Regions from separate parts of the Homo sapiens genome. Here region 1 is linked to region 2. Evidence: fine-mapped expression QTL. Tissue or cell type: whole blood. Region 2 holds a variant in brackets; the other region holds the start of a gene. All regions are shown on one strand. Distances are from middle to middle.

Region 1 (10,877 bases), 23 kb after region 2:
TTTTGTTTTTTTGAGATGGAGTTTTGCTCTGTCGCCCAGGCTGGAGTGCAGTGGCATGATCTCAGCTCACCGCAACCTCCGCCTCCTGGGTTCAAGCAATTCTCTGCCTCAGCCTCCCGAGTAGCTGGGATTACAGGCACCCACCACCATGCCTGGCTAATTTTTTGTATTTTTAGTAGAGATGGGGTTTCACCTTCTTGGCCAGACTGATCTTGAACTCCTGACCTCGTGATCCACCCGCCTCAGCCTCCCAAAGTGCTGGGATTACAGGCGTGAGCCACCGCACCCAGCCTTTTAGTTATTTTTAAATGTAATAATTTTAAATTATTTTTGACAATAGTCACCCTGTTGTGCTAGCAAACACTAGGTCTTATTCATTTTATTTTATATATTTTTTTGAGATGGCATCTTGCTCTGTTGCCCAGGCTGGAGTGCAATGGCGCAATCTCAGCTCACTGCAACCTCTGACTCCCAGGTTCAAGGAATTCTCCTACCTCAGCCTCCTGAGTAGCTGGGATTACAGGAGCACACCACCACACCCGGCTAATTTTTTTTTGTAGTTTTAGTAGTGACAGGGTTTGTTGGCCACGCTGGTGTTGAACTCCTGACCTCAGGTGATCCACCCGCCTGGGCCTCCAAAGTGCTGGGATTACAGGCGTGAGCCACTGCACCCAGCCCATTTTATTTTTTTGATACCCATTAACCATCCCCATTTCTTCCCATCCCCCCACTACCCTTTCCAGCTTCTGGTAACCATCCTTCTACTATCTCCATGAGTTCAACCGTTTTAATTTACAGCTCCCACAAATAAGTGAGAACATGCAAAGTTTGTCTTTCTGTTGAGCACTAACTTCTTAATTATCTTGCTTTCTTTTTCTTCATGGCATTTCTTATTACACAAAATGAATGGATTCTGCATGTATTCAGTTATTTGTTTACTGTATGTATACCTCGATGAACACGGGGTTTATCTGTGTTCTCACTGGCCTTCAATCTCAATAGTGACAGTATGCCCCAGAAAGATGAATGGATGGGTTCAAACAGATGTCTCTTCTACATGCATTCTACATCGCATCCTTCAAGTAGGCAATTAAAGCCCACAATTGAGCACTCCAGTCTGCCTGTGCAACTCAAATCTCAGCGCTGCCACTTCTTAGCAGCTGTGTGACCTTAGGAAATTTCTTAACTAATCTTAAGCCTCAGTTTCTCCACCTGCAAAAACAAAACTCACCTCATTAGAAGACAATCATGCAAAACCTTAGCTCAGGGCCTGGCACCTAGTTAGACTGTTATTATTAAGAGTTGATATTCAGCTGACATACACTGAGATGGTCATATCAATCATCTATGACCAGCATTCACTCTCACTAGTCTGTCTCCATGGCATCCTGGTTATAAGTTTGTTTGTTTGTTTGTTTGTTTTTTGAGACAGGGTCTCACTCTGTCACCCAGGCTGGAATGCAGTGGTGAAATCACAGCTCACTGCAGCCTCGACCTCCTGGGCACAAGTGAACCTCCCACCTTAGCTTCCCAAGTAGCTGGGACCACAGATGTGCACCCAGCCATTTTTTGCGGAGAGGAGGTCTCACTATGTTGCTCAGGTTGGTCTCGAACTCTTGGGCTCAAGCAATTCTCCTGCCTCAGCCTCCCAAAGTGTTGAGATTACAGACATAAGCCACCACACCTGGCCAGTTGCACTATTTTTTCTTTTTCTTTTTTTTTTTTTTTTGAGACAGGGTCTCACTCTGTTGCCCAGGCTGGAGTGCAGTGGCATGATCTTGGCTCACTGCAGCCTCAACCTCCTGGGCTCAGGCAATCCTCCTACCTCAGCCTCCCAGGTGGCTGGGACTACATGTATGCACCACTATGACCAGCTAATTTTTGTGTTTTTTGTACAGATGGGTTTTTGCCATGTTGCCCAGGCTGGTCTTGAACTCCTGAGCTCATGCAATCCACCCGCCTTAGCCTCCCAAAATGCTGGGATTACAGGCATGAGACACCACGCCCAGGCCTAAGACATTTTTAACATCACCCCTAGTAGTAACATTTTGCCTATAGTCCTTATGTCTCCCTTGCTTTCTAAAGCTGTGAAAGTTCTCCTAAAACAGAACGGACAGACCTCTTGAAGGCTTTATCCCGTATTCCACCATGTATTACAAGTATATAGTAAAGTTCCTTGAAGACAAGGCCTATTTCAAATGTTTTTAATTTCTTCATTTGCTCCCCTTCCCTTCTCTCTTCTCCCTTCTCTATGGTCCGTTGACAGTGTGGTTTGCAGTGGTAGGGATGCCATAAATATTTCTGATGGAAGTCATGCACGAGAAGCTACTTCCTAGGTACTATTGTCCGTACTTGCCTGAACCTAAGAATCACCTGTAAAAACTACAGTTGCCAGAGCCCCAACTTATATCTACTGAATCTGAAATTGGCAGTAGGATGGGGGCATATCTGGAATCTTTTTTTTTTTGAGACGGAGTCTTGCTCTGTTGCCGAAGCTGGAGTCCAGTGGCGTGATCTCGGCTCACTGCAACTTCCGCCTCCCGGGTTCAGGAGATTCTCCTGCCTCAACCTCCTGAGTAGTTGGGACTACAGACACACGCCACCACACCCGGCTAATTTTTGTTAGAGACGGGGTTTCAGCATGTTGGCCAGGCTGGTCTCGATCTCCTGACCTCATGATCCACCCACCTTGGCCTCCCAAAGTGCTGGGATTACAGGCATGCGCCACCGTGCCCGGCTTTGTTTTTTTTAATCAGCCAGCCTCCCAAACTACAGCAGGCTCAGAGAGACTCCCAAGGAATCTCTATTTCTAACAAGCATCCCAGCCCATTCAGCCCATTCTTTTATCAAATGAGTTTAGGAAACATGGCCCTAAATTATCACCCAAGATGTTATCTATCACCTGTCACACATCACCCAGTTATTGAAAAACTTACCTGAAATATAAGGTTTTCATTTACATGTCTCACAAATAGGCACTGGTTTACTAAAAACCCACAGAAATGTTATCTTTTTGGTTTGTGTATTAATATCATTTCTATCTTGATATAGAATACCTTTGAAAATTAAGGTTTCTTATTGTACCCAAATCTTCATCTCTCTCACCCACTGCATCTAAGTCTAGCCTTATCTATCTACACTGGTACTAAAACATAGCTTTTTTTCTTTCCCTTTTAATGATGGTGACTGAGGTACAGCCTCCTCTCATCATTTAAAAAAATTATTTTAGGTGGACTGCGATGGCTCACTTCTGTAATGCCAGCACTTAGAGAGGTGAAAGTGGGTGGATCACTTGAGCCCAGGAGTTCAACACCAGCCTGGGCAACATGGTGAAACCCTGTCTCCACCCCCACCCCCAAAAAAAATGCAGCTGGGCGGGGTGGCGTGCACCTGTGGTCCTAGCTACTCAGGAGGCTGAGGTGGAAGAACTGCTTGAGACCAGGAGGTGGAGGCTGCAGTGAGCCATCATCACACCACTGCACTCCCTCTTGGGCAACAGAGTGAGGCTCTGACTTCCAAAACAAATAACAACAACAAAAAACAATTTTTTAAGAGTCTCATTTTAGTCCTTTCAATTCGTGACACACTTTATTTATTTTTAATTTTTTTGAGACAGAGTCTCACTCTGTCGCCCAGGCTGGACTCCAGCGGCGCAGTCTTGGCTTATTGCAACCTCCGCCTCCCAGGTTCAAGCAATTCTCCTGCCTCAGCCTCCCAAGTAGCTGGGATTACAGGTGCCTGCCACCATGCCCGGCTAATTTTTGTATTTTTTAGTAGAGACAGGGTTTCACCACATTGGCCAGGCTGGTCTCGAACTCCTGACCTCAAGTGATCCACCCACCTTGGCCTACCAAAGTGCTGAGGTTACAGGCGTGAGCCACCGCGCCCAGCCTGTGACACACTTTAAATGAATTCAGGGTTGACTCATACACAGCACGCCTGGTAATAACATTGAAAACAAAGTCTCCTGCCCAAATTCTAACAGTTACCACCACAATGCAGAGCCCTCTCCTGAGAGATAATCATTTCTGTACAGTTAATGATGAAAGAGTGACGCTTTCATAACAAGACCAATGATGGTTTCTGTTCCCTCTCAGTCCAAATCCAGTGTCCGTCTCCTCCCAAAACAATAGGTTATCCTCTGATCAACGCTGACAAAATGAACCCTGTAGGAAACACACAAGTATGGCGCATCTCTCAAATCTTAGCTCTTTGAAATGACACCAGGCAGCCGACTCTGAATCACAGCTACATTTTAATCCATTTTCCGACACTCCAAATGCTCTAAGCTATTTTCTGTATAACCACTGCCCTCACGGCGGGCAGCCTGAGAGAAAGATCGTCGCGTGAGGGGGTACCTTGATGGGGGTCCGGGCTCTGCTACAAACTGGCTAGGTGAACTTGAGCAAATCCCTCCCTCTCTCGGAGCCTCAATCTCATTAACTCCAAAGAGAGACAGCTGGACTCAGAAGACCCCTCAAGTCTCCCACATTTCTAAGAATCTAACAGCTGGGGGTCACAAGGGTAACCAAGACTCTAGCCCCATAACATATTGTTTTGAGATTACCTAACCTAACCCTCTAGCTTCAAAGACTAAGATCCAGAAATGAAAGTTGCCTGACACTCAATCTAGTGTCCTTCCCACAGGACATCATTCCTTCTACGAAAACGAACACACGAGAAAATGGCATCTGAACATCTGAAAGCCCTGCCTCGACTCAAGAGACGGGCAGGTAGCCTATTTCATCTGATTTTTGTCCCTCGTGAACTTCCACCTAGCTGGAAAGGGCAAAGCGCGAGCTTCTAGGCCACACCCTAAGTAAATCCGGACCGCCCTACGCAGGAGCAGTCGCACCTGCTCCTAAGCTCGAGGTGAAGGTGGCTCCGTCTCCACCCGAGCTCGCCTCAGAGCGAGCCCGCGACACAGAAACATCTCTCTTCAGACCCCAGCTTGGTCCAGGTTGCCCCACGCCCCAAGGTAGTCTCTCCGCGCTGCTATACCTGCTCCGCCACGGCGCGACCCCGTGCAGTAATCCCAGACATCGGTGCCCCACGGACGTCGCCATCTTGTCTGCTCCTTCTCAGCGTGCCACGCCCCCTTCACACGCTGGGCGCACGCTTAAGGCGTCACGAGTCTCGAGTTCAGTGGGCCAATGAGAAAAGCGCGGGTTGGGGGCGGAGCCGACTAAGCTCCGCCCTGTGGCTACTCCCCACCTAACCCGCTTGGCACCTGCGGAGGTAGGGGAACTAGTGGAGCTGTAGGTTTCGCTAAACCTGGGCTTGGTCGCAGCACTGCCACTCCTCCTCCTTCCCTCTGGGTGCCTTTCCTCATGTACCTGGAAAATCTGAGTCATCCAAGATCCAAGAATGTCGTTTCAAGTGATCGAACTTGCTCATTTTACGGATGGGGAAACTGGGCATCCATGACTCAGCTCTCGTTTTTTAAGCGCCGGAGTGTGTTGTGAGCACTTTGCAAGCATGGTGTCATATCATTCTTATCTCCTACCGCTGTGCTGCCAGGGAGACCGGGGGCAAACGGTCTTGGATCACCTAGAAATGCAACCAGTCGTTAAATTCGGTGCCTGGTGCTTGCTCTTGAAAAGGTTCCTATCTTCAATTGTAAGAGGAAAACGAGTTTTCAATCATGTCTGCTACTTTTTACTGAGCACTGACTAGAGACTCGCAGCTAGGCCCGAGACATTATCCCCATTTTAAAGATGAGGTACCTGAGGCTCAGGAAGGTTAAGCAACATCTTCAAGGGTACATAAAGGGCATATGCCCAAAGACTATAAAATAGTGAAGCCAGAATTTGAACATACGTCTCTGACTCCAAAAACCATGTCCTAAACATCTTCTTCTTTTTTTTTTTTTTTTGAGACAGAGTCTCTCATTGTCGCCCAGGCTGGAGTGCAGTGGCGCGATCTCGATTCACTGCAAGCTCCGCCTCCCGGGTTGACGCCATTCTCCTGCCTCAGCCTCCCGAGTAGCTGGGACTACAGGCGCCCGCCACAACGCCCGGCTAATTTTTTTATATATATTTTTCGTAGAGACGGGGTTTCACCATGTTAGCCAGGATGGTCTCGATCTCCTGACCTCGTGATCCGCCCGCCTCGGCTTCTCAAAATGCTGGGATTACAAGCGTGAGCCACCGCACCTGGCCTAAACATTCTTCCTTTTAAGCCCTTTGTCAGAATCTGGCAGAATTTGGGTCCAACAACTGAAGGAATGCAGCCCTACTTTTTCATCTGCTAAGCTGATAATCACAGTTGCCTTCACCAGGCATTTGACAGGAGGAGGAATATGCTCCCTGGTCCCTGCAGGTATTTCTGTGTAGTTGGCTTAAGTTCAACTAGGGCATACTCAGCTCCTACAGAGAGCTTAAAAGGCACCAGGTTTGGTATTGGGGGGAAGAAACCTCCCTTTGTCATGGTTTTCAAAAGTCGGAAAAGAAAAAAACAAATGTATAGAATTGGTTTTGGCCGGGCGCAGTGGCTCACGCCTGCAATCCCCACTCACTGGGAGGCTGAGGTGGGAGGATAGCTTGAGCCAAGGAGTTGAGACCAGCCTGGGCCGGGCGCGGTGGCTCACGCCTGTAATCTCAGCACTTTGGGAGGCCGAGGTGGGCGGATCACGAGGTCAAGAGATTGAGACCATCCTGGCTAACACGATGAAACCCCATCTCTACTAAAAATACAAAAAAAATTAGCCGGGCGTGGTGGCGGGCGCCTGTAGTCCCAGCTACTCTGGAGGCTGAGGCAGGAGGATGGCGTGAACCCGGGAGGCGGACTTGCAGCGAGCCGAGATCGCGCCATTGCACTCCAGCCTGGGTGACAGAGTGAGACTCCGTCTCAAAAAAAAAAAAAAAAAAAAAAAGGAAGTAAAAAAGAGACCAGCCTGGACAACATAGTGAGACTCCATCTCTTTTTTTTTTTTTTTAAGAGGCTGGGCACCGTGGCTCACCCTATGATCCCAGCACTTTGGGAGGCCAAGGCGGGCGGATCACCTGAGGTCAGGAGTTCGAGACCAGCCTGGCCAACATGGTGAAACCCCATCTCTATTAAAAATACAAAAATTAGCTGGGCATAGTGGCGCCTGCCTGTAATCCCAGCTACTCCAGAGGCTGAGGTACGAGAATTGCTTGAACCCGGGAGGGGGAGGTTGCAGTGAGCTGAGATAATGCCATTGCACTCCAGCCTGGGAGACAGAGTGAGACACCATTTAAAAAAAAAATACATATTGGTTTAATTGGTTTTACTATCCAATTGAGAGTAGTAAACCAGCAGGGAATGGGGGGAAATTATTTCCAAATGAAGTGCATTGGGAAAACTGAATATCCATATACAAAAAGTAAAGTGCAGCCTTACACCATATACAAAAATTCATTCAAAATGGATCAGAGATGTAAACTGAAGAGCTAAAACTATAATACTCTTAGACGAAAACATAGGGGAAATCTTCATGACGTTGGATTTAGCAATGATTTCTTGTATATGACGTTAAAAGCACAGGCAACAACAACAAAAACAACAAAAAGATATACTTCGAAATTAAAACTTTTGTGCATCAAAGAACACTATCAAGAGAGTGAAAAGACGCTGGGCGCGGTGTCTCACGCCTGTAACCCCAGCACTTTGGGAGGCCAAGGCGGGCAGATCACCTGAGATCAGGAGTTGGAGACTAGCCTGGCCAACGTGGTGAAACCCTGTCTGTAGTAAAAATACAAAAATTAGCCGCATGTGGTGGCGCAAGCCTGTAATCCCATCTACTCGGGAGGCTGAGGCAAGAGAATCACTTGAATATGGGAGGTGGAGGTTGTGGTGAGCCGAGATCGTACCATTGCACTCCAGCCTGGGCAACAAGAGTGAAACTCTGCCTTAAAAAAAAGAGAGAGAGAGAGAAAAGGCAACCCACAGAATGAAAGAAAATGTTTGCAAATCATGTATTATCTGATAAGGATATTTGCTCATTACTGTCATGTAGATGGGTGGGGAAGAACCTATTTTTCCAAGCTTACAGGAAAATAAATAAATAAATGGCTCACTGAATGCTTTTAGAATAAAAGTCTCCAACTTTATTTTTTGAGACAGAGCCTCACTCTGTTGCCCAGGTTGGAGTGCAGAGATGCGATCTCGGCTCACTGCAGCCTCCACCTCCCGGGTTCAAGCGATTCTCCTGCCTCAGCCTTCCGAGTAGCTGGGACTACAGGCGTGCCACACACCCAGCTAATTTTCGAATTTTTAGTAGAAACGGGTTTTCATCATGTTAGCCGGACTGGTCTCAAATTGCTGACCTCAAGTCTGCCCGCCTCGGCCTCCCAAAGTGCCAGGATTACAGGCGTGAGCCACCGCGCCGGGCCTGACAGTCTCAAACTTTAAAGCACGCTTCCTGCCCACCAAGGCTTGCGCTCGCTGTGCCTCCTTCAGTAGGAAACAGCATTAACTTCCGTAAGATCCTGTCTTTTGAGACCCCGTCTCAAAAAAAAACAACAACAAACCGACTTAAGCACTCGAATCTTCGGCAGCTTATCTATACATTTGGATATCACTTAACCTCATGGAATTGTGAGGACAAAATAATGCAGCGTAAGTTCAAGGCACCTGGTAGGTGCGAATTACTCAACAACTGGGGGCATTAATTTCTGAGATTTCTCTGTGGCCGCTAGGGGGCAGAATTAGCCTAGCATTTAAGAACGAGCTTGCTTGGCTGGGCGCGGTGGCTCACGCCTGTAATCCCAGCACTTTGGGAGGCGGAGACGTGCGCATCACGAGGGCAGGAGATCGAGACCATCCTGGCTAACACGGTGAAACCCCGTCTCTACTAAAAATACAAAAAAATTAGCCGGACGTGGTGGCGGGCGTCTGTAGTCCCAGCTACTCTGGAGGCTGAGGCAGGAGAATGGCGTAAACCCGGAAGGCAGAGCTTGCAGTGAGCTGAGATAGCGCCACTGCACTCCAGCCTGGGCGACAGAGCGAGACTCCGTCTCAAGAAAAAAAAAAAAAACGAGCTTGCCTCAATTTTGTTTTCAAAGGATTTTTGCAGTGTGGATGGTAGTGGCAGAGCTTCGAGGCTTTCGTGAGCCCCAAGCACTTTTGCCTCAGTGGACTGACCCTTTTCTCCATAAAAAATTAAGAATTTTATTTTACAACCGTATTGGTATAAAGACTATTGTCTTTATATTAACACATTTATATTTATAAATCCAAGCTGAATTCATTATTATTATATTCTTTTCCTTTTTTTCCTTTGAGACAGAGTTTCACTCTGTGGCCCAGGCTGGAGTGCAGTGGCCCGCGATATCGGCTCACTGCAATCTCCGCCTACCGGGTTCAAACGATTCTCTTGCCTCAGCCTCTCCAGTGCCTTCAATTACAAGCACTGGCCACCACGCCTGGCTAAATTTTGTATTTTTGTTTAGAGAGACAGGGTTTCGTCATGTTGGCCAGGCTGATCCCAAATTCGGGGGCTCAAGTGATCCTCCTGCCTCGGCCTCCCGAAGTGTTGGGATTACAGGCATGAGCCATCGCACCCAGCCTCATTTTTTAATTTTAATATTAAAAATTTTGTTGTGGGTCCTTAGCACTTTTTTTCTTTTTCTTTTTCTTTTTTTTTTTTTTTTTTTTTGAGACAGGATATTGCTCTGACACCCAGGCTAGAGTGCAGTGGCACAATCATGGCTCACTGCAACCTGGACCTCCCAGGCTCAAGCAATCCTCCCACCTCAGCCTCCCGAGTAGCTGGGATTACGGGTGCACACCACCACACTCAGCTTATTTTGTATTTTTTATAGAGATGAGGGTCTCACTATGTTACCCAGGCTGGTCTCCAACTCTTAGGCTCAAGTAATCCTCTTACCTCGACCTCCCAAAAAGTTGGGATTACAAGTGTGAGCCATGGCTCCCAGCCAGCACTTTTCCTATTGTCTTAGTCCATTTCTTAATCTGTTAAAATTGGGAAACATTGGTAACTACCTGATAGGCACAACAAGGTTTTATTTTGAGATGATAAAATTTGTCCTGAATTAGACAGAAATGGTACACCACGTTGTGAATGTACTAAATGTCACTGAATTGTCCACTTTAAAATGGTTGATTTTAGGCTGGGCACAGTGGCTCACACCTGTAATCCCAACACTTTGGAAGGCCAAGGTGGGTGGATCACCTGAGGTCAGGAGTTCAAGACCAGCCAGGCCAACATGGTGAAACCCTGTCTCTACTTTTTAGTAGAGACAAAATTAGCTGGTCGGGCTGGGCTCGGTGGCTCACACCTGTAATCCCAGCATTTTGAGAGGCCAAGGAGGGCGGATCATGAGGTCAGGAGTTCGAGATTGCCTGGCCAATATGGTAAAACCCTGTCTCTAGTAAAAATACAAAAATTAGCTGGGTGTGGTGGTGCATGCCTGTACTCCCAGCTACTCAGGAGGCTGAGGCAAGAGAATCGCTTGAACCTGGGAGGCGGAGGTTGCAGTGAGCCGAGTAACTGTAATATCAGCTACTCAAGAGGCTGAGGCAAGAGAATCGCTTGAACCTGGGAGGCAGAGGTTGCAGTGAGCCGAGTAACTGTAATACCAGTTACTCAGGTGGCTGAGGCCGTAGAATCACTTGAACCCAGAAGGCGGAGGTTGCAGTGAGCTGAGATTGCGCCACTGCTCTCCAGCCTGGGTGACAGAGCAAGACTCCATCTCCAAAAAAAAAAAAAAAAAAAGGAAGATGACAAGCATTGGAGAGGATGTGGGAAAAACTGGAATCCTTGTACATTGCTGATGAGAATGTAAAATGGTGCAGCCACTGTGGAAACCAGTTTACCTTGTTCCATCTCAAGCTAGTAATCCCAGCTCTCTGGGAGGCTCAGGCAGGAGGATCACTTGAGCCAAGGAGTT
Region 2 (10,877 bases):
GCACTACCCCACCTTCCAACCAGACCTCCACCACACATATTTTCAGTGGGGAAATGCCTCTGGATTTTGAACAATCACTTACAAGTGAATTTCCATTAGGGAAAAAAAATTGTCTGGAAATTTACTTTCCTACCTTGTATTTATTTCCTTCAGGCCATGGAGTCCTTTATTTCCACGCCTCCCACTCTGTTAGGACTCCCTTGGGTGGGAGTGCCACCTAGTGCCACTGTGAGGCTCTGCAGGCTCTCAGGCCACCTGCAGATGGAGGCCTCCCTGCCTCAGTCAAGCCACCTGTATTCTCTGCCAGGTCCCAGCTGTGTGAATTTCATGCACTACTTCTAAGGGGATGCCCTGTGCCAGGGAACAGAAGGTAGCTGCGGAACAGGGGTAAAAGGTGTCCTCAGCTAATTCTCATTTCCTGGCTCTTGGCTAATTCTCATTCCCTGGGGGCTGGCAGAAGCCCCTCAAGGAAGATGGCTGGGGTCTTAACGGCTAGTACAAGAAACCACAGGCAGGCATCAGCCTCCCCAACGTCTGGGCAGAGAGGCCAGGCAAGCACAAAGTGCCTTCAGGCTATTTCTCTACACACCAGATTCTCCTATCCCTGCCCAACTCCCCACTCATCTTTGAGAATCGTTTTTGGCAGTCCCACTAGCCTGCAAGATGTCCCGGATACCCCTGGCACATTCAGAGCCCCACCAGCAGCTCCCCAAGGGCCCTGCCCAGGCACTCAGGAAGGGCAGACTGGGGTGGAATTCAGAAAAAGTGCTTTAGGCCAGACGTGGTGACTTAGTGTCTGTAATCCCAGCACTTTGGGAGGTCAAGGTGGGCAGATCACCTGAGGTGAGAAGTTCAACACCAGCCTGGCCAACATGGTGAAACCCCATCTTTACTAAACATACAAAAATTAGCCAGGTGTGGTGGTGCACGCCTGTAATCCCAGCTACTCGGGAGGCTGAGGTGGGAGAATCGCTTGAACCTAGGAAGCAGAGGTTGCAGTGAGCTGAGATTGCCACTGCATTCAGCCTGGGTGACAGAGCAAGACTCCATCTCAAAAAAAAAAAAAAAAAAAAATAGAAAAAGAAAAAGAAAAAGTGCTTTTAGGCCTGGCACGGTGACTCATGCCTGTAATCCCAACACTTTGGGAGGCTGAGGTGGGCGGATCACCTGAGGTCAAGAGTTCAAGACCAGCCTGGCCAACATGGTGAAACCCTGTCTCTACTAAAAATACAAAATTACTCAGGTGTGGTGGCACGCACGTGTAATCCCAGCTACTCAGGAGGCTGAGGCATGAGAATCGCTTGAACCTGGGAGGTGGAGGTTGCAATGAATTGAGATCGTGCCATTGCACTCCAGTCTGGGCAACAAGAGTAAAACTCCGTCTCAAAAAACAAAACAAAACAAAACAAAACTGCTTTTAGGTAGAGCCTCCTGGCAGACAGCTTCATGCAGGGCTGCAGGTATCTTGAGTCGGCCATCCCTCGATTCCTTCCAGCCCAGAAGTTTAGCCTTGTGTTTAAGTTCCATGTCTTTTTTTTGGAGACAGAGTCTGACTCTATCCCCCAGGCTGGAGTGCAGTGGAATGATCTTGGCTCACCACAACCTCTGCCTCCCGGGTTCAAGCAATTCTCATGCCTCAGCCTCCCAAGTAGCTGGGACTACAGGTACCTGCCACCACACTGGGCTAATTTTTGTATTTTTAGTAGAGATGGGGTTTCACCATGTTGGCCAGGCTCATCTCAAACTCCTGACCTCAGGTGATCTGCCTGCCTCCCAAAGTGCTGGGATTACGGGCGTCAGCCACCATGCCCCGCTGAGTTCCACATATTCTTGAGACACGGTCCCTCCGCTTGTCCACACACTGACCGCTCAAAGCCATTGGAGGTAGCTCCCAGGTGGGTCCTGGGCCACCTGGGGGCATGGCTGTATGAGCCACCGTTCCGCCCTCTGCGATCTCCTCCTGCCCTAGAGTGAGCCCACAATTCTCTGAGGTCAGAGCTGGCCCCTGCCAGCCAGTTCCAGTGGCATAAGAACACTACAGGAGTTCAGGTGGCACTGGGGCAGGCAGGAGGCTCTGCTTCCCTGCCAACTTGACTATTTGCCCATTTCCACACTCACACCTATTAGGTAAGAAGTAAAATAGTACTAAAGCTCCACTCCCTGCCAGCATGGGGCCAGGTATTTACATACACATCACTCTTATTTAACAACTTTATGAGGGCATGAATGGCCCTATTTATAGATGAGAATAATAAAGCTACAGCATGTACATCGCTCACCAACATGGAGAACACGTCCGATACTGCCCACTACCAGGTACACCGCGGCGCCAGGACGCGTGCTGAGCACAGGCCCATGGGGCTCCAGGAAGGGGACAGGGAGAGAAGGAGGACACAGGCCACTTCACAGGGTTCTGCCTTATGCTTAGGCTGAATGGTGGTAGACCAGACAGGCTGATCTGTCTTTATTCCTTTTGATGAATTGGAATACTGTACTATACATTTTTTTTTTATTCTAAACGGAGGCTAGAAACAAGGAAGCAGCGCTCAGACAGGAGTGAGCATACCTGCAAGCCCAGCTGAGTAAGGCCTTTCCTGCACTGCTGCTCCCCAAACACCTCAGCCCTTGCCACAAGCCCCCAGGGCCATGCCTCAAAACAATAAAACCACCTTCCGGGTTCAAGCGATTCTCCTGCCTCAGCCTCCCAAGTAGCTGGGATTACAGGCACCCGCCACCACGCCCAGCTAATTTCTGGGTTTTGTTTTTTTTTGTTTTTGAGATGGAGTCTCACTCTCTCTCCCAGTCTGGAGTGCAGTGGCACGATCTCGGCTCACTGCAAGCTCTGCCTCCCAGGTTCACACCATTCTCCTGCCTCAGCCTCCCAAGTAGCTGGGACTACAGGCGCCCGCCACCACGCCCGGCTAATTTTTTGTATTTTTTTTAGTAGAGACGGGGTTTCAACGTGTTAGCCAGGATGGTCTCGATCTCCTGACCTTGTGATCTGCCCACCTCAGCCTCCCAAAGTGCTGGGATTACAGGCATGAGCCACCACGCCCAGCCTAATTTTTGTATTTTTAGTAGAGACGGGGTTTCACCATGTTGGCCAGGCTGGTCTTGAACTCCTGACCTCGTGATCCACCCATCTCGGTCTCCCAAAGTGCTGGGATTACAGGTGTGAGCCACCGCGCCCAACCTTTTCCCTTTTTTTAAAAAGATTACATATTCGTTGGGCGCAGTAGCTCACGCCTATAATTTCAACACTTTGGGAGGCCAAGGCAGCTATATCACTTGAGCCCAGGAGGTTGAGACCTGCCTGGGCAACACGGCAAAACTCTACAAAAAAAAATAATAATAAATAAATTAAAAAAAAAAAAAAAAAAAAAATATATATATATATATATATATATATATATATATATATATATAGAAAAATTAGCCGGGCATGGTGGTGCACGCCAGTAATTCCAGCTACTCAGCAGGCTGAGGTGGGAGGATCGCTTGAGCCTGGGAGGTTGAGGCTGCAGTAAGCTGTGATCACACCGCTACACTCCAGCCTGGGCAACAGAGCAAGACTCTCTCAAAAAAGAAAAAGTTGTGTTTTTTGTTTGTTTTTGTTTTTTTTTAAAAGAGGTTACATATTTACCATTAAAAATCTCTCACTGGCCCTAAACTGGCAACAGTCATCTAACCCTGGTCTCACGCCACTCTGAACCGGACCCTCCTCTGTACTTCCTCCTGCACCAGCTCGCGGCAGCCACAGGGCTGTTCTGTTCAGACCTGAGAGACCCATTCAGGCACTCACGCTGGGACGTGCATGTCACTTTACTCCAGTGACTGAGGACCTGAGAACTCCTTCGTCCTCCATTTTCCAGAGCAAAGAAGAAACAGTGAAAGCTACAGAAAAGCATCTCTGCTTTTGTGAAAGCACAATTCTCTTCCCATGCTGACTCAGTCTGGGGAAGAGGTCAACTTTTGGATCCACTCTTCTGAAGAAGCAAGTGTCCCGCTCCCCTCACCCGGCACTGGCTATCTTGAATCAGTGAAGAGGAAAGCTCTTCACTCCCTAATGTCACGTCCTACACATTACAAGCTCTGACTGAAATTTCTCACTCAGAATGTTTGTAACCTAAACATTTAGACTGAGTGGCAAGGAAGGAGGATCCATGTGCTTCCAGAAATAAGGCTCGGCCCCAGACAGACCCAGAGGCCGCCCTGCCTTTGGCGTGGGAGCCGCAGGCTGAGCAAGTGCCTCCCCTCGGGCCAGGCCCTCTGTCCTCCAAACCACTGGGCCAGGAGAGCCTGGCCCTGCTCTGTGGCCACTCAGGCAGATGTATTTTGGCTGTGCCTGCCCTTGGCTGTGGGGCTGCTGCCAGGTGGTGGTAGCCCCAGGATGAAACCAGCCCTCCCCCAAGACCTAGATCCACGGGGCAGAGGCAACACAAAGGAACTCAGGACGCTGTGACCGGGCACAGCTCAGGCCCAAAGATGTGGGGCAGGTCCAGTCACAACAGCAGCCCCACGTCCCTTCTGGAGAGTCTGGACGGCCACCCCTGCTGTCAAGCCCCTGCCCCATGGGAAACTCACCTCCACTTGACCTAACTGCAAGCAAAAGTGTCCACCAAATGCCCTGGGTCTGTGGAGGGGCGAGGAAGGGGGGATGAAGGGGGATGAAGTGGGGAAGTGGGGAGAACAGGGAAGAGGGA[G/A]AAACGCTTGTTGGCCAAGAAGACCGGCAGAGAGGAAATGACACAGCTGCCCCAAGAGAGGCAAAACGGGTAGTAAGGACACCCGCAGGCCACTCCTCCCCTCAGAGATCTGCCCCCATCCTTCCCTAGCCTCTGCCACAAAAACCAGTTCTGTCTCTACTACTAGCTAATGGTTTTTTCTTTGTAGAGGCATGGTTTTGCTATGTTGCCCAGGCTGCTCTCAAACTCCTGGGCTCAAGAGATCTTCCTGCCTCAGCCTCTCAGGCAGCTGGGACCAGAGGCACACACCACCACCCCTGGCTGATTTTTCTTTTCTTTTCCATTTTTTTTTTCTTTCTTTTTTTTTTTTTTTGAGATAGAGTTTCGTTCTTATTGCCTAGGCTGGAGTGCAATGGCGCAGTTTCAGCTGAGGTGGGAGGATCACCTGAGCCTGGGAGGTCGAGGCCGTGGTGAGCCCTGCTCACACCACTGCACTCCAGACTGGATGACAGAGTGAGAGCCTGTCTTTTTTTTCCTTTTTTTCCCCCTGAGACAGCGTCTCGCTCTGTCACCAGGCTGGAGTGCAGTGGCATGATCTCAGCTCACTGCAACCTCCGCCTCCCAGGTTCAAGCGATTCTCCTGTCTCAGCCTCTCAGGTAACAGGGACCACAGGCACACACACCACCACCCCTGGCTAATTTTTCTTTTCCTTTTTCTTTTTTTTTTTTTTGAGACAGAGTTTCATTGACCAGGCTGGAGTGCAATGGCGCAGTCTCGGCTCACTGCAACCTCCGCCTGCTGGGTTCAAGTGATTCTCCTGTCTCAGCCTCCAAATTAGCTAGGATTACAGGCGCCCGCCACCACACCCAGCAAATGTTTTTGCATTTTTAGTAGAGACGGGGTTTCACCATGTTGGCCAGGCTGGCTAATTTTTTAATGTATTTTTTTGTAGAGACAGAGTCTTGCCTTGCCAGGCTGGTCATGAACTCCTGGGCTCAAGCAATCTTCCCACCTCAGCCTCCCAAAGTGTTGGGATCACAGGCATGAGCCACCATGCCTAGCTGAAAGTGTATATTTTCAATTAGATGTTTTGTAACCAAAAATTTGAGATATAATCTAAAACAGTATTTGTCAATTTCAGGAAAAGAGGAAACAGGCAATATGACATGATTGCTGAATGATTTTTTTTATGACTTTTGGGGACAAATAGGCAGCATATCTGAAATCACAACCGCCACACAAAGGCAGGACATATGACCACTGCAGCAGTATAAACTATGGATCCATAAACTACAGATCTGTACCTGGTAGCCACCCACCCTCTGTCTGTGCTCACTCACCGCGGCTCTGAGCACAGGCCTCTATGTCAACAGCCAAAGCCACAAGCCACACCTGTGGAACCCAAGTGAACACTCAGGCCAAGAACCAAGAATGTTCCCAGGACATCATGAGTTCCTGAAAAGAAACTCAGAGAAGCGGCTCTTCTACTTCTCAGCAGTCCCTGAGCTCCTGCCTTCAAGAGTGCCCTTGGTACCCTGCAGAAAATCACCTCTGCCCACTGATGGGCCACAGGTTGAATCAGGGACTCAAGGGAATAGCACTCTGGAAGCCAAAAAGCATTATTCAAGCTGCGCACACTCCACGCGACGGGGCTAAATGGAACTAAAAGGAACACTCTGGGTCTTCAACCTGAGCAGCTCAGCAAGCAGCTTTCCAGAACACGATTTCAAGCTACTTTTTTTTTTTTTTTTTGAGACAGAGTCTTGCTCTGTCACCCCGGCTGGAGTGCAGTGGCACAATCTCAACTCACTGCAACCTCTACCTCCTGGCTCAAGCAATCCTCCCACCTCAGCCTCCCAAGTAGCTGGGACCACAGGCCCATGCCACCACACCGGTTGATTTTTGTATTTTGAGCAGAGATGAGGTTTCACCACGTTGCGCGGATTGGTCTCAAACTCCTGAGCTCAAGTGATCCGCCACCTCAGTCTCCCAAAGTGCTGGGATTACAGGCATGAGCCACCACTCCAGGCCTCAAGCTACCCTTTCTAGAGACATCATTCTGTGAAATAAAAACTTAAAATAAAAACATCCTTTTTGTTTCGGTTTGGTTGTTTTTTTTTTTTTTTTTTTTTTTGAGACGGAGTCTCGCTCTGTCAACCAGGCTGGAGTACAATGGCACGATCTCGGCTCACTGCAACCTCTGCCTCCTGGGTTCAAGCAATTCTCCCACCTCAGCCTCCCGAGTAGCAGGGATTACAGGTGCCTGCCGCCACGCCTGGCTAATTTTTGTATTTTTAGTAGAGACAAGGTTTCACCATGTGGGCCAGGCTGGTCTTGAACTCCTGACCTCAGGTGATCCACCCGCCTCGGCCTCCCAAAGTGCTGGGATTACAGGCATGAGCCACCACACCCGGTGTTTTTTTTTTTTTTTTTTTTTTTTGAGATGGAGTTTCACTCTTGCTGCCCAGGCTGGAGTGCAATGGCGCAATCTCGGCTCACTGCAACCTCCACCTCCTGGGTTCAAGCGATTCTCCTGCCTCAGCCTCCCAAGTAGCTGGGATTACAAGTATGCACCACCACTCCCGGCTAATTTTTTGTATTTAGTAGAAGAGGGGTTCCACCATGTTGGTCGGGCTGGTCTTAACTCCTGACCTCAGGTGATCCACCCACCTCGACATCATGCTCAACTAACGGATAAAAGATTCACTCTTACCATAGATCTTATCAAAATCAGCATATGATTTTTTTTCTTTCCTTTTGAAGTCCAGAACTTTCACATTTTCACTTAAAGAAGGCACTTTACCACTTTCTCTTCGGCAATCCAAATTGCCAGAATTGCTATTATTGCACTTTGGGGCCAGTGTTAAGCCAAATAAGGGTGACCTGAACACAAGCACCAGAATACCACGACAGCTGATACGGTAACTGAGATGGCTACTAAGTGACTTATGGGCAGGCAGCATAGACACTGAGGTCACAATGGACAGAGGGAGGATTCATATCCTAGGTGGGAGAGAGAGAGTTCATTATGCTACTCAGAACAGGGAGACATTTGAAACTTAGGAATTGTGGCCAGGTGCGGTGGCTCACACCTGTAATCCCAGCTTTGGGAGGCTGAGGTGGGCAGATCACCTGAGGTCAAGAGTTCAAGAACAGCCTGGCCAACAATGGTGAAACCCGATCTCTACTAAAAACACACAAAAAAATTAGCCAGGTGTGGTGCCACAAGCCTGTAATCCCAGCTACTCGGGAGGCTGAGGCAGGAGAACTGCTTGAACCCGGGAGGCGCAGGTTGCAGTGAGCTGAGATCGCGCCACTGCACTCCAGCCTGGGCGACAGAGTGAGACGCCATCTCAAAAAATAATAATAATAATGATAAAATTTAAAAACTTAGGAATTATTTCTGGAAATTTACATTTAATATTTTCAGACTGCAGGAACATGAAACCTTGGATAAGGGGGAAACACTCCGATTGTTTTAGAAGCCAAATGCATGCCACAAACCATAAAGGTGTCCATACCCTTTCAGGCAGCAATCCTACACGTAGGCTTTCATCATGAGGAAAAGGCTTTATGTGCAAAGGTATGCTCTGCAACATTATTCATGGTGGCAAAGACCACCAGTATACCAGAATCAACTGAGGTGGTAAAGCCTCAGTGGCAACCAGAGACTTCAGGACCTGGGCGCCTGTCACCACTGAGGAAGAGCCAAGAGTGGCTCCAGGGTGGCTCACACCTGGAATCCCAGCACTTTGGGAGGCCAAGGTGGGAGGATCGCTTGAGACCAGCCTAGGCAACATAGTGAGACCCCATCTCTACAAAAAATAAAAAATTAGCTGAGTGTGGTGGTGGTGCATGCCTGTGCACCATGTCCCAGCTACTTGGGAGGCTGAGGTGAGAGGACTGCTTAAACTCGGAAGGTTAAGGCTACAGTGAGCTGTGACTGTGCCACTGCACTCCAGTCTGGGCAACACAGCAAGAGCCTGCCTCAAAAAAGAAAAACAAAAAACAAACAAACAGCTGAATCAATTTAAAAATACAGAAAAAAGGACAGGTGTGGTAGCTCACACCTGTAATCCCAGCACTTTGGGGGCCCAAGGCAGGTGGATCACAAGGTCAGGAAATTGAGAGCATCCTGGCCAACACGGTGAAACCCCATCTCTACTAAAAATACAAAAATTAGCTGGGCGTGGTGGTGCGCGCACCTGTAGTCCCGGCTGCTTGGGAGACTGAGGCAGGGGAATCACTTGAACCCGGGAGGCAGAGGTTGCAGTGAGCGAAGATCACGCCACTGGACTCCAGCCTGGGAGACAGAGCGAGACTCAGTTTCAAAAAAAAAAAAAAAGAAAGAAAAAAAGCCGGGCGTGGTGGCTCACACCTGTAATCCCAGCACTTTGGGAGGCTGAGGCGGGCGGATCACCTGAGGTCGGGAGTTCGAGACCAGCTTGACCAACATGGAGCATCCCCGTCTCTACTAAAAATACTAAATTAGCCAGGCGTGGTGGCACACACCTGTAATCCTACCTACTTGGGAGGCTGAAGCAGGAAAATTGCTTGAACCCGGGAGGCGGAAGTTGCAGTGAGCAGAGATTGTGCCACTGCACTCCAGCCTGGGCAACAAGAGCAAAATGCCATCTCAAAAAAAAAAAAAAAAGAAAATAGAGATAAAGACAGGAAGTGAATGCATAAAAAACAAAGCGCATGATTAAGCAATCACAGTCACATGGCAAGAAGGCGTGGGAATCATCATGTCCCCTGTTTTCCAACATTCTGTCATAGTGTTTGCTATATTCATCTCCGTCATTTAACAGGGAGTAAGACTGATTTCTACAAGCATGCCAAGACCATTCAATAGAGAAAGGATAATCTTTTCAACAAATGATGCTGGGAAAACTGGATACCCACATGCAAAATAATGACGTTGGATTCTTCTCTTATACCGTAAATAAAAATTAATTCAAAATGGATAAAAGACTTAAATATAAAACTACCCTGGCGAAGTGGCACATACCTACAGTCCACTACTGGGAAGGCTAAGGTGAAAGAAACATGTGAACCCAGGAGTTCAAGGCTGTAGCAAGATATGATCACACCACTACTCTCCAGCCTTAGCACAGCAAGACCCTGTCTCTGAAAAACAAAACAAAACAAAAACCTAAAACTGGCCCGGCACAGTGGCTCATGCCTGTAATTCTAGCACTTTGGGAGGCCAAGGTGGGTGAATCACTTGAGCTAAGGAGTTCAAAACCACCCTGGGCAACATGGTGAAACCCCATCTCTACAAAAAAATACAAAAATTAGTGGCTGTGCATGGTGGCTCATGCCTGTAATCCCAGCACTTTGGGAGGCCAAGGCAGGCAGATCACGAAGTCAGGAGATCGAGACTATCCTGGTTAACACGGTGAAACCCCGTCTCTACTAAAAATACAAAAAATTAGCCAGGCCTGGTGGCGGGCACTTGTAATCCCAGCTACTCAGGAGGCTGAGGCAGGAGAATGGCTTGAACCCAAGAGGCAGAGGTTGCAGTGAGCCGAGATTGCGCCACTGCACTCCAGCCTGGGTGACAGGGCGAGTCTCCGTCTCAAAAAAAAAAACAAAAACAAAAACAAAAAACTGTAGCCCTGAAGGGAACATTAGGTAGGGCTCATCTGCCTTTGGTTCTTCAAGCTGGCTTATCATCAGAATCACCTACAGGGCTCCTGGAAAACACAGATCTTGCACCTAGCCCAAACTTTGTAGATTTCTAGGAGTTAAGGAATTCAAATTCATAATTTTTTCTTTTTTTTTTTTTTGAGATGGAGTCTTCACTCTGTCACCCAGGCTGGAGTGCAGTGGCATGATCTCAGCTCACTGCAACCTCCACCTCCCGGGTTCACGCCATTCTCCTGCCTCAGCCTCCCAAGTAGCTGGGATTACAGGCGCCCGCCACCATGCCTGGCTAATTTTTTGTATTTTTAGTAGAGATGGGGTTTCACCATGTTAACCAGGATGGTCTCGATCTCCTGACCTCGTGATCCGCCCGCCTCGGCCTCCCAAAGTGCTGGGATTACAGGCATGAGCCACCACGCCCAGCCTCAAATTCATAATTTTTAAAGCTCCCCAACAATTCTGATATCAGCTACATTTGGAAAATCTCACATTTTTCATTTGTGATGACAGTGATTAGGTGGAACCAGAGGTGGGATTAGGACCAG

What was found. PIP is the estimated chance that this variant, and not a neighbour inherited with it, causes the effect.
Region 1: PISD starts here. The variant in region 2 is fine-mapped to the expression of PISD in whole blood (TOPMed, PIP above 0.99).

The regions. Positions count from the first base shown.
Region 1 is chr22:31,657,143-31,668,019 of GRCh38, forward strand. PISD (phosphatidylserine decarboxylase) reads right to left here and starts at 5,073. Exons shown (of 8, transcript NM_001326411.2): 1 at 5,002-5,073. The coding sequence starts at 5,066. RefSeq lists enhancers at 2,910-3,804, 3,805-4,698, 3,994-4,133, 4,107-5,306, 4,524-4,573 and 2 more.
Region 2 is chr22:31,633,782-31,644,658 of GRCh38, forward strand. All of the region lies in intron 3 of PISD (phosphatidylserine decarboxylase), which reads right to left. Among named protein-coding and RNA genes, the nearest start is that of MIR7109, 18 kb to the left of the region's middle. RefSeq lists a silencer at 324-373 and an enhancer at 5,016-5,095. The variant G/A (reference allele first, on the strand shown) is at 4,704.